Regions from separate parts of the Homo sapiens genome. Here all the other regions are reported to be linked to region 1. The links are microRNA targets in miRTarBase. Many come from high-throughput screens and were not tested one by one. Region 1 holds a microRNA gene; each other region holds the end of a gene's coding sequence. Distances are from middle to middle.
Evidence for each region. The annotated mature microRNA hsa-miR-3924 reads AUAUGUAUAUGUGACUGCUACU and lies in region 1 at 1,312-1,333, shown strand. An mRNA with a match to its seed (bases 2 to 7 or 8) in the 3' UTR can be bound and repressed. Matches are read on the target gene's strand: a 7mer-m8 pairs with bases 2 to 8, a 7mer-A1 pairs with bases 2 to 7 and ends in A, and an 8mer does both.

Region 2: the mRNA of VENTX is a reported target of hsa-miR-3924. Seed matches in the 3' UTR shown: 7mer-m8 at 2,249-2,255.
Region 3: the mRNA of SYPL1 is a reported target of hsa-miR-3924. Seed matches in the 3' UTR shown: 7mer-A1 at 676-682 and 7mer-A1 at 976-982.
Region 4: miRTarBase lists CRIM1 as a target of hsa-miR-3924. Seed matches in the 3' UTR shown: 7mer-m8 at 1,480-1,486.

What each region holds. Positions count from the first base shown.
Region 1 is chr10:57,302,638-57,305,821 of GRCh38, reverse strand. MIR3924 (microRNA 3924) reads left to right here and starts at 1,263; the gene lies at 1,263-1,343.
Region 2 is chr10:133,239,605-133,242,764 of GRCh38, reverse strand. It overlaps VENTX (VENT homeobox), which reads right to left. Exons shown (of 3, transcript NM_014468.4): 2 at 2,929-3,089; 3 at 837-2,833. The coding sequence ends at 2,459. Among named protein-coding and RNA genes, the nearest start is that of VENTX, 3.3 kb to the right of the region's middle.
Region 3 is chr7:106,089,158-106,092,341 of GRCh38, reverse strand. It overlaps SYPL1 (synaptophysin like 1), which reads left to right. Exons shown (of 5, transcript NM_182715.4): 5 at 403-1,837. The coding sequence ends at 537. Among named protein-coding and RNA genes, the nearest start is that of SYPL1, 22 kb to the left of the region's middle.
Region 4 is chr2:36,548,151-36,551,334 of GRCh38, reverse strand. It overlaps CRIM1 (cysteine rich transmembrane BMP regulator 1), which reads right to left. Exons shown (of 17, transcript NM_016441.3): 17 at 200-2,810. The coding sequence ends at 2,634. Among named protein-coding and RNA genes, the nearest start is that of FEZ2, 48 kb to the left of the region's middle.

The DNA.
Region 1 (3,184 bases):
CTTGTCTAAATGGCCCACCTAAGAATTATGTATAACCATTACTTTTTTTGTAAACGTCGCTTGTAGTTATTTTATTTGACTACTTGGAGAACTTTATTCTTTATTCTCTGGTTCTCATTTGTCTTGAAGGATGAAATTTCCAGAGAAGTAAACTCTAGCAAATGAAAGCATTTAAATGGGTTTTTGAAAATTGTTATTTTTTGTTTCTTGCATGTCATCATAGTACAAACAAAATTATTGAAAAACATCAGGTGTTTTGTTTTGCAAGAACTTGAAATTGTGTTTTCTAAATTAGTAAGAATAGAAACAAATTAACTACAAATCCCAAGTAATAGAGACAGTCACTGACTCTGGAAGATTGACATCTTAAAAGTTTCTGTGTCTATTGATATTATAATGTGGTTTGTGTCTTTAGTTCTGTTTATGTGATGAATCACAATGATTGATTTGCGTATGTTGAATCAGCCTTGCATCCTGGGGATGAAGACTATTTGATCGTGGTGCATAAGGTTTTTGGTGTGCTGCTGGATTCAGTTTGCCAGTATTTTGTTGAGGATTTTTGTATCTATGTTCATCAAGGACATTGGCTTTAAAGGTTTCTGTTTTTATGGCATCTCTGTCAGGTTTTGGTATCAAGATGATGCTGGCCTCATAGAATGAGTTAGAGAGGAGTTCACAGGAACATGGATGGAGGCAGAGGCCATTATCCTTAGCAAACTAATGCAGGAACACAAAACCAAAGATTGCATGTTCTCACTTGTAAGTGGGAAATAAATGATGAAAACACATGGACACATGGGAGGGAACAACACACATTGGAGCCTGTTGGAGAGTGAGTGGTGGGAGGAAGGAGAGGATCAGAAAGAGTAGCTAATGGATGCTGGGCTTAATACCTGGGTGACAGGATGATCTGTGCAACAAACCACCCTGGCACAAGTTTATCTATGTGACAAACATGCACATCCTGCACATGTGCCCCTGCTTAAAATAAAAATTGGAAATTAAAAAAAAATGTTTCTATGAAAAAACTTCTCTATGAAAAAAGTTTTCTATGAGAAACAACACTCTGGAGCTCTTCACATACATCATTTCCTGGAGATTTTTAATGCAGTATAGTTTTTAAATACTCTGAAATGTCCTGTGAAAAGTAAACCTGGTTAAACTGATTGAACCTGATATTTTCCAAAACAAATATATAGATACACACAGAGAGATACATGTATGCGCACATATGTGTACATAAATATGTATTTAAATTAAAATAAATGAAAAAGTAGTAGTCAAATATGCAGATCTATGTCATATATACAGATATGTATATGTGACTGCTACTTTTTTGTTTAATTCTCTTACCCCTATCTTTCTCTTTTCTATGTATGCAGGTATGTAACAGATATGCAATTGTACCTTGGAAGATGCTTTTCTCATATTTTGGCATCACCTATTGTTTAATCCTAAAGCCAAGGAAAGACTCAATATTTAACACTTGAATTTAAGATTATAAATTATATTTACCAAAAAGGCAAATATTATCCTAACACTGCATTTTAATTTCATGACTTCCAATATATCTGGAGATTAGGGAGGAAAAAGGTGTTAAAATTTTTATTTTAAAGTACATCACTTTACAGTTTTCTGACAACTATAGCTGACAAATTTGTTTTGTCTCAAAGATAATTTAGAGTGACAAGTTATTTCTTTTGGGGGCCACAGATGCAAGAAAAGATTTACTTCATCTGCTTATTACCCTAGAAATCTCTAAACAAAATTCTAGTTCAACTTGCATTTGTGATTTCTCTAGACTTTACTTTATTTACCAGTGCCCTATATGGACAAGATCATTTAATTAAAAAAAACCCTTAGAATTATAAAATTATAAAGTAAAATTGAAGGAAATGTATGGAGTATTTCATTGAACCTTATCATTTCTTTGTGTGCATGTGTTTGTGTGTGCGTGTGTGTCTGTCTGTCTGTGAGAGAAAGACAAAGCACAATGACTTAAATTGGCCATTTTGTCTCCCTATATTGGACAACTAGAGTCATGAATGCTGATTTTGCTGAGTCAGCATCCCTACTGGGAAACACAGAGGCCACTTGGTAGAGGCAAATATAAACGTTCTTGGGAAACACATTTTTGTTTAAATTTTCCTCATAAATTTATTAGACTAAAATCAACTGGTATAACAGAAATAAAAACACGGTGCAAATATAAACTTTTATTTTTATATTGATTCATTATTTGCTTTATAAATTTTTTATTTTATAAATAAAATGGCCTTATGTAATTGCAATGGCATACATGAATTTTTTTCCAGGTATTGTTTGACTTTTAATAAGCTGGTTAGTGACTTTCCACTAAGTAAATCTTCACGACTAAATAGTGTACTGCAAGGATGCAAATACAACCCCAGGCCTTTGTCAATAAGCTCCCTCTATGCTCCAGTGTAAAATAAAATTATCGTTTGCTTCTTCACATCTCATATCCCTTCTCCATTTTGTACTGTGTAGAATTTGTACTTTTGCTTTGCATTTAAGGAAATACCTGTCACTTATCTTTTTTTTTTCTTTTGTAGCTTTCATGCTAATAAAGAATTGGCTGTCCTCACCTAGCAAAATATTTTTATGCACAAACTACAATGACATGGTTGCCAACCTGGTTTAATGGTTTGAATTAAGAATGACCATTTATTTATGATAATAGAAATGCTCTCAATAAACCAGTTCAGTGCACTATATGCCATAAGTAGACTTACTAAATTGAGAGGACAGAGCCTGGTAAAAAGAAGTCAACTCCTCATCAAACAAAGAAGAAAAAAGAAAGATTGAAATAACAGACTAATTCATTTTTGATACAACGTTTTTAAAATCTTTTGAGGGAGAAATTGTCTGCTCTCTGCAAATGCAAACCAGCTAGTTTCTGCTTCCAAACAATTGAAGAGTATTGCTCACAAAATTATAAAGAAGGCTGTTTGTTTATGGAGCTCTCACACATCTCCTTTCAGTCTTTCTCTTGACTTTTCCCTCCCTACTCCATCAGAAACTATGTGATTCCTTATTCCTGACATCACAAGCTCAATGCCACAAAAGCCAGTCATTTAATAAAGGTGTGAAGACAACAGTGTGTGTGTGTGTGTGTGTGTGTGTGTGTGTGTGTGTGTGTGTGGCATGAATTTTACAGATGTTT
Region 2 (3,160 bases), 76 Mb from region 1:
TCTCTGCCCCGCCGCCCTGCGCCCCCAGTCAGGTCAGGACCCCCAGTGCTTGTAAGATGTCCACATGGGGATGTTGAGTGGGGTGGGGCCAAGAGCACCTGGGGCACTGTGCTTGTGGGGGCAGCTGGGGGCATCCAGGAGCAGAGGACTTGCCAAACTCTGGGACTGACGTCCAGCTGTCAGCCAGAGGACCCCAGAAGAGAGTGGGAAACAGGCTGCGGGGATGTGAGGAAGGTCCCCAGGGGAGAGCGGAAACAGGCTGTGGGGATGTGAGGAAGGCCCCCAGGGGAGAGCGGAAACAGGCTGAGGCCAGCGGAGTGGTCACTGCATCCCGGCCAGCTGTGACGCAGCAGGTGGGTGGAGTAGGGCTTGGGGGCATCTTGGTCTTCAAGGTCCACCCAGATACCAGCAGCCCATGAGGCCTGGGCCAACTCACTCTGCAGCCCCGGATGGGGGACAGGGAGAGAAGTTTGGAAGTCGTGGGTGGCAGAGCCTTCCCTGGGCCTGAGGGCCTTGTGGATCCCCCAGAACTCAGGGTCTAGGTCCCTGCTGGACACTTGGAGCCCGCCCCACTCCTCAGCCTCCGGGACTTTGCCCTTTTCCAGAGCTCCTCATCTGCAGGATGGAGCCAGGGCCCTAAGGAGGCCCAGGTGTGCCTCCGAACAGGCACAGCTCAGCCCCAAGGGGCTGCCCACCTTGTAGGGCCCAGTGTGCTGGCAGGACCTCGAGACACCACCAGGCCAGGGCCCTTACTCACCGGGAGAGTTCAGGACCAAGACGGTGTGGTTTGTGGCCTGGGGCCACACAGGGGACCAGAAAGCAATCTCCACGGGCGGTGAGGGGCACTTGTACTTTTATCACGGACAACGTGCCCCCATCCACATCCACAAATCAGTGCTGTCCAGGCCAAACCCAGTAGTCCCTGTCCAGCTGCTGCCCTCCGAGGGCCTCGCCCAGGCTTCTGTCACATTGTCACTCGCCAGGACGATGTACAGCAGCTGTTCCCCTCTTACCTGACGTTTAAAAGCACATGCCAGTTGTAAACACTTACAACAAGGGAGAAACGAGCAAGGGGAAAGTGAAACTCGCTGGGGACGCAGCCGCAGGACCACGCTTCTGTTCCTGTTGGGGTGCCCGGGTGGGTTTCACAGGTCGCCTCCAGTTCTGCAGGCTGAACCCGTCTGCCTGGGCACCCCGCACTGCCTGCCTCCTGGGCACTCTGGGGCGACATGGAAGGAATTGCACTTGTCTCAGGTTTCATGCACGCAGTCAGGAGTCTGCACCAAGAACGGTCCATCAACGCGGGAGTCCTCCCCGGGAGGGGCTTCCGTGCCTCCCATTCTGGGCACTTCCAGACCTTCTGCAAGAAGTGCTGTCCTTGAGTCATTGTTTTGTCCCGAGGCTGCTGCGAGCAGGGGGACAGGTGAGCACGTGTTGGAGGGTGGGGACCTGCGGGACAGCTTCAGTCCAGGCACAGCCGCAGGTCCCGGCTGCCCTGCTTTCCCTGGCCCAAGAAGAGCAGCCCTCAGCAAGCTGTGGGTACAGTCCCGGCTCACGCACAGCCTAGAGCGCACTGCAGGGCCCCAGCATCCTCGCCTTCATGTTCACCTTTGTTCCCTCCTGCTTTCCAGCTTTGGAGTTCTTGTTAAGAGGGACTTGAACCACAACGCTATAAACACACCTGCATTCCCTGTTTTCTTTTGTACACACAAAGCTTACAACCTTTACTGTTTCCAACTGGAAAACCAGTTTTTCCAACCCCTTTTAAAAAACAAATGATCCTTTTATCGTACGCCGAAAGCCCTACCCATGACAAGCCCACTTCTGCATTTGACTCTGTTCACTGACCCTTCGTTTCCTTCCTAAACCGACTCTTTCGGTAACTTTCAGTGAAGAGGTGGCTTTAATAAATATATTCTCAGGGCCGGGTGCAGTGGCTCATGCCTGTAATCCCAGCACTTTGGGAGGCCGAGGCGGGCGGATCACAGGGTCAGGAGTTTGAGACCAGCCTGGCTAACATGGTGAAACCCCATTTCTACTAAAAATAGAAAAAATTAGCCGGGCGTGGTGGCGGGTGTCTGTAATCCCAGCTACTCGGGAGGCTGAGGCTGGAGAATCGCTTGAACCCAGGAGGCGGAGGTTGCAGTGAGCCGAGATTGCGTCATTGCACTCCAGCCTGGGTGACAGAGCAACACTCCGTCTCAAAAAAAAAAAAAAAAAAAAAAATATATATATATATACACACACATATGTATATATATATTTATATATACGTATATGTGTATTTACATATATACGTACATATATATATTTATATATATTCTCCAGTAATCTCCAGAACCTTTGTGTGGGTCAGGGTGAGAGGTGCCACCAGGATGTAAACAGAACAACTGAGTCCTCCAGGTAGGAGCCAGGTGCGATCAGCAAGACCGCGAGTGTGGGAGTCAGAGGTGCCTCCTCAAAATGCATCCCCCGTCTGTGGCATAGCACACAGGCCCCGGGGCCCCGTGGACAGGGCTGGTCCCAGCGAAGGCCGGCCTGGGGTAGGGGGGTGGGACGCCAGAGGCTGCCCGCAGCAGGAAGCTCCCGCAGATGCCAGGGCCTCTTGTGCCACTTGGCAGAGACCCCAGAAGGAGCCAGGGGGCAGCATCAGAGCCTGGGGCCCGGACAGGGGTGCCCAAGGGCACAGCAGCTGCAGGCCATTGGCAAGGCCAGAAGACGTTGAGTAGAAAGCTGGGGGCGCATGGAGAGACCCCGAGAAGGGGCTGTGCAGCTGGGGGTCCTGCATTTGCCGTTTGTGTTTCATGCGGCGATTCTGAAACCAGGTTTTTATCTGTAGGAAAAGCAAGATCAGAACAGGGGTGAGACTAGGCCACCAGCCCACCCTTGCCCACCCCTGCCCACCCCAGCCTGCCCGGCCCACCTCACCTGGACCTCTGAGAGCTGCATCTCCCTGGCCAGCCTCTTCCGCTCCAGAGGGCTCAGGTACTGGTGGTGCTGGAAGACGCCCTCCAAGGTGCGGACCTGCTCCATGGTGAAGGCTGTGCGGACACGGGGGGCCCGCAAGGTATTTGGCTCCTTACTCAACCCTGACATAGAGGGTAAGGGCATTTGGCTCAACATGCCACCCCATGGGGCAAGCTCGTGCCCACGGGTAACA
Region 3 (3,184 bases), not on the chromosome of region 1:
TGTGTGACTCCTCTTTTTTTGTGGCTACAACTGTTGGATTGGAGTAGAAGAGATGGTAGGAGGGGGTGATAAGTAAATGGGAAAAGTTACACAAGCAGTTGATAATCATTCTAAATAGGAGAAAAGTGAAAAGTATTTGGAAGAGTAAATCTCTTAGCCATGATTTTATATGTTAGAGATTTAGCCTTATTTCATTGGGAATAAGTCATTATATAACCACATTTTGTACATTGAAGTGTAGTCTTCCTTATTTCTCATTGTGTGTAGTATTAAACTTTAAGTGAAATAATGGCGTACTTCCTAAAAATGTTAAATATTTAAAGAAAAAGTGAGATTTTTAAGTAGGGCATGAATTTTTATAAGTAGGTATTTGATTTTCATATTTCTTTTTCTCTTTCATAGATATTTGGCTTTCTAAATATGATACTCTGGGGAGGAAATGCTTGGTTTGTGTACAAGGAGACCAGCCTACACAGTCCATCAAATACATCTGCCCCTCATAGCCAAGGAGGTATTCCACCTCCTACCGGAATATAATTAAAGGGAGAAATACACTGTATGAAGTATATGTTGATACTATGACATGTTGCCAACACCTTGAGAAGCATTATTTGTTTCTAATAAAAGTAATGGCTTTGTCAATATATTGGTGGGTTTAAAACTTTGCTGCTTTTTTACATAAAGCCTGTGCCTTTCCTAGAAAGTTAAGATGTAAATGTATTCTCACATGTAAATTTGAAAGTTCAGGGGTCTATTATGAAATGATACACATTTTTAAATGAACCATAATTTTTTTCACTAAGCTGTTTGCCTTCCAAAGTGTTTACACCTTAAGCCTTAACATGTATCTTCATTCAGAAAACAGTTATATTGTCATACCATAGTAGGAAGAAAAACCTTTATTTGGAATATACACTACTGTAAGTTTGTACAGATCATATACCTACCACCTGTCTTTGCTTAAAGAGCCTTGATTACATAAATATGTAGGAAAAAACATATTGAGTTCAAAATTTATATCTAACATTGTTTATGTTATGATTTTTTTTTAATTGCAAAGACTAGGTGTATATTTTTTTCTGTTTTTCTAAATGACCCGTGGTACTTAATAGGTGTACTAAAATTGTGTTGGGAGCAGGGATTTGGAAATTTCTGAGAGATGTGTAGTTAATTTAGTAATTCTGTTTCATGAGATATGATCTGTTATGCTAGTGGTTTAATAGGCTTGCTATGTAAGTAGAACGTGGCTCAACTAGATATCTTTATATGTATGGGCATTACTCTTAGTGATATTTGTTTCCTGTCCTTTGTTGCTCATGCTGTTTAAGTGCAGGCTGAGACCCAGCCTCTTTGTAAGTACAGTAAAATAATCCACCGTTTTTTACAGACCCTAGTCAAAGGGTTAAAAAAATTAAGATTGCTTTCCATGTTTGAAATTTACCATTGAGAGTCAATGAAGTTGCTATTTTGAGTTTAGCATTGATATTGTGAAAATAAGTGCAATTTGGATTTCATGTTTCTTAATATTCATTCTTGTTTCACAAATGAATGATTAAGGAATTATGCATCATAAAGGAACCTAAGTGAGGTATATGATGAGTGTATTGTCTTTGCACACACATATAGGTATATTCTGAATACAAGCTTATTCACATTTTGCTTCCTAATCTTTTTGTTGTACAGGGATTCAGGTTTCTTATTCTTACAACATGATTGTTTATATGTGAAGCACATCTTGCTGTTGCCTTATTTTTGATGCTTTTATTCATGACAAGAATTGTCAATATAAGAATGTATATCTTTTTTGCAACCAATTTAATAAAGGAGTTGAAAGAAAGAGTGCACTGATTGTTAATATTACAAAGAAACCTTCATCTTAAAGGCATTGAGCAGTGCAAAACAGAACTGATTTTCAAAGCAGGAAATAGAATCACAGTTTTAATGTTTGGCAAGGAATAAAACAGACAGAAATGCTTTGGAGACTATGGTTCTATCCTTTTTTCTTCCGACCTCATTTAGAAAATACTTATTTGCAACTCTTAGATTGTTTTCCTGATATACCTTTTCTCATTAATTGTCTAATTAACTAGCAAAGATTCCTGCTTAAGAGTGTGTGCTCTGCAACCGAACTGCCTAGATTTGAATCTTGTCTACACCACTTACTAGCTGTTTAACTGTAGGCAAATTGCCCTCTGTGTGCCTCAGTTTGCTTATGTGGAAGTCGGAAATAAAGTAAGTAGTTCCCTCCTGTTTACTGGGGATATGTTTCAAGACCCCCTGGGATGCCTGAAACCAAGTGTAGTACCAAGCCCTATGTGAACTGTCTTTTTTCCTATCCATACATGCACCTATAATAAAGTTTATCAATTGAGCACAGTAAGAGATTAACAAGGACTAATAATGAAGTGGCACAATTAAAACCATACTGTAGTAAAAGTTATGTGAATATGGTCTCTCAGAATATCTTACTGTACTGTACTACGGGGAACTGAAACTAAGAATAGTTAAACCACTTTCCTGATCTCAGTGTGTTTATGATTTAAAAGTGAATTAACAAATGTAAAGCCCTTAGAACAGTGTTCCGCATTTAGTAGGCACTCTATAAATGTTAGCTACGATTACTAACTTTTGATAGCATCTGATATAGAGATTCTTAAACTAGGAATTCATGGGGCTGGAGCCGTTAGGGTGGTGGTTTTGGACAAAGAGAGGATTGGCGTCAGGCTTTCAAGCTTGTCCCTTTACAATCCTTAAAGAGTTCTGGATCTTTTGGTGTGTTTTATTTTTCTGTTGGTTGACATTCATAAGGTTAATGAGATCAAAATTTAAAACTTAAAAGTATTGAGATTAAAGTAGATCTTAAAAGGACTTCTATTGCCTTTTCCCTTTGTGCTTTTGAATCAACATTACAAGGTTAACCCATTTATAGGATAATTTCCAGGAGAGAAGCAATAAAAGCTTTACTTACTAGGTGTTAGGTTGTAGAGAATTATTTATAAAAAAGATGAGCATTACTAATGTTTTAGTGAACAGAGGTCAGTTGAATAGATGTTTAACCTACTGTAAATGTTAAAGGCAATATTGCTTATGTTTCACATTTAAAATTTTTTCATATAGTATTTCAGATTAATAGGTAAGTATACAAAATAATATTTAACAAATGCTTTATTTGCATCAGATGTTT
Region 4 (3,184 bases), not on the chromosome of region 1:
GGTTTCTTGTCTCCCTAAAAACAGCATCGCTATTCTCTGTACTCTGGGAGACACTTTTCTTTTTGCAAGGATACCTTGGGAAAGACCCGCCTAATGACAAAAGCACGGGACTTCTTGTTACACCAGGGGTTCATTGGACTGATAACCTTAAAAGTCTTTCGGATCTCAGAGATGGAATCTTTTTGCAAGTTACACTGTGTGATTTCAACTCAAAATGTTTATTTCCTGCCAAGAATCAAGTTGCAGATAATTCTCTTACAGCTTTTTTGAAGAAAACAAAAACAAACTGTAGAACTATGATGCACTCCAAGTGCCATATATCTATTTTATTCTTCAGGAAATTATATTTTTCTTTTACAAGAGCACAACAGGAACCAAAGTAAAAGAGTAATAGATACAGCACTCAGGATAAATCATATCTTTAAAATAATAATAAAAAAATTTACACCTTGTCCTATATCCTGTTAGTATTTTCATAATATGGCCATGATTGAAAAAACAAAAAGCAAGCATCTACAATTTTTTTTGATAAAGACTTTTTATGCCAGGAATGGATTAATTACCAACAAAATTTATACTAATCAGGCTGATGTCAATCTATTTTTGTAATGTATCATTAACAAATTTATTTTGGAAAAGATAAAAATATTGCCCCTTGATAATAAATCTTTTTTTCCTTTGATGCAAACAGCTAGAACACCTTTTTCTTTTTCTTTTTGATATTCTAAGACAAAAAAATGGTTAATCTTCAGATTAATAAATTAGGTCATTATAATAATAAATTAATTTTTTTTAAAGTTCAGCAACCTCTGTCCAAGTATTTACAACAATACTTGAAAGTTCCTTTACAAAACAGAACACATTTTCTTTTCACGTTAAGCATACTGGGTATCTGTGTCTTTCACAACAAGCATTTTTAAAAGAAAACTCAATGCACAAATGGGTTAATTAGTATAAAAGTGCTAAGGGCTGTTTGAAAAGTTACCACTATAGTATACAGTCAGTTATATTTGAGGCATACTACAACAAACTTCCAGCTTATTGTGGACAATATTCCAGTAGTTGTTTCAAACCATTGTTTGAAAAAAAAAAAAAAAAAATCCAGGAGCTGATTAGTGATGCAGATAAGAACTGCCATCAATGTCTCTGGCCAGTGAGCAAATTGAAAACCAACTGAAAGCAAATCCAAATGAGGAAGATTTTAATAAAGGAATACCCTTCTCCATAGCAGGTGCAATGCTGACTGCTCAAGGCGTGCGTGCGCGCGCACACACACACACACACACACACACATACATACTCTCACACACACATCTTTCCAATTAAACTGCAGGTAGAATGAGATTTTGTGTTATTCAAAAAATTTGTAAGTGATCAAAAGCACTGCTATGGAATGCCTGTTTATCTGCCTTTGTTCTGGTTAAAATCTCATAAAAATACATTCAACAGGAAAACATAAATTGTATGTGTATAAATATATATGTATATATATATATTATATACACATGCACACAAATACTTTTGTTTTTTGAAGCATAAGATAGTTACATAAATACTCCTATAATTGCTAAAGTTTAAAGAGGCATCATTTTTTTTGAGCTTCAACAAAGGTGCTTGAATAATATACAATTAAAATGAAGTAGTTTCTATTTTGTAGAATCAGTATATAATAAGGAAAAAGAATCCCCAAACAGTCTTTTTAAAAAAAGTTTCTTCTTAAGCTAGAGCTTCAACAAAAACTATGAACAACCAACAATATAACAGAACAAAGCAACAACAAACAGTGAAATATAGCCCCTGGAAATGCCTGGTGTTCGTCACCCTCTCCCTCCTCTTCCTGTCACGTTGTAAAAAAAAAAAAGCTCCAGTGCTCACATCAAGAAATGACTTAGATCTTGTTCATGTGCTGACTCTGCTAGGAACTGGCTGATTGATTGGCTTGGAAGAAAATAAAAGCAGCAAAAAGTGTAACTGTATATATCCTTAATAACCCGCTTTAGAGAAATGCCGCTATCGCATTTCTCTGGCTTCCTCACTGCCTACTGCAGTTGTGACTGTATAGAAAAGAAACTTGTGGCTTTAGACCTGGGATGGCTGTCAAAGGGTTCTGATGTGCTCGTCTGGTAGTTCTAAGGTGGTTATGGCAGCTGGGTCGCAAGGCCTTTTTTGTTTCCTGCTCATTCAGGCCTGAGCTTTGCAGCAACCAGTGCAGTCTTCAGAGCAATAGGAAAAAAATAACCTCTGGGCCACTGAACTGCTTTTATGTTACCAGGTTTCTCCCCGAGCCAAGCTGACCAATTTTTCTTCCCAACACCACCCTCCCACCCATTTCCCCATCCAAACTCACTGTCCCCACCCCAAATATCTCTACAGCTATCTTACAGGCAAATATATCTTAGCAACTTTAAAAACTTTGGTTCTAAGAAAACACTTGGTCAGTTATCTTGAGGAAAAGTGGGAATGCTTGTTCTGCACATTGCTGTAGACAGAGCCCATCCCAGTAAGGTCTTAGCGCTGTACATCAAGTCACAATCCAATACAATCCACTAAGCAAGTGCACAAATTCTAGTTTACTTTTTAGAGCAGATTTAGTCGTCTTCCGTCTTTTGAAACCTCATCCTAGTTGCCTTTCTTCACACTGTTTGGTAGAAATTGTCTGCCTGTAGATGGTTCTGTTTTTGCATGCTGTAGAAGCCACTGAATCTTGCATCTGGTTCTGCAATTCTTAGCATTCTCTGGGAACTGTCCACCTGGACTCTGGTTCCTTTCTTGCAGTCCACAGATACTAGCTGATTATTTAAGGAAGAAGGCTATTTAATGAGAGGAGGAATAAAACCACAAAAAATTAGTTGCTTTACATTATCTCAAATGAACAGAAATTTAGTACCTAACTCAGGTGAGATAACAGTTTCACAATTCATTGATTGATAGCCTGTATGCAGATTATCACATCTTGTTCTAGTACCAACTATACTTTTATGAGGGACACTGACAAACTGTATTTTAAGGTGAAATGTCAAGAAACTGTCAAATAGGGAGATGAAGGAACTGAAAAAAAAAAAAAAAAGACTGGTGAAATGATTTCAAATCCTTGAAGTGCAGACCTTGTGTTTCAAGGGGGCTGAAGAATGAGTGGAAGGTAGGCAGATTTTAAAAACAAAGGGATGACTTCTAACCACTCAGA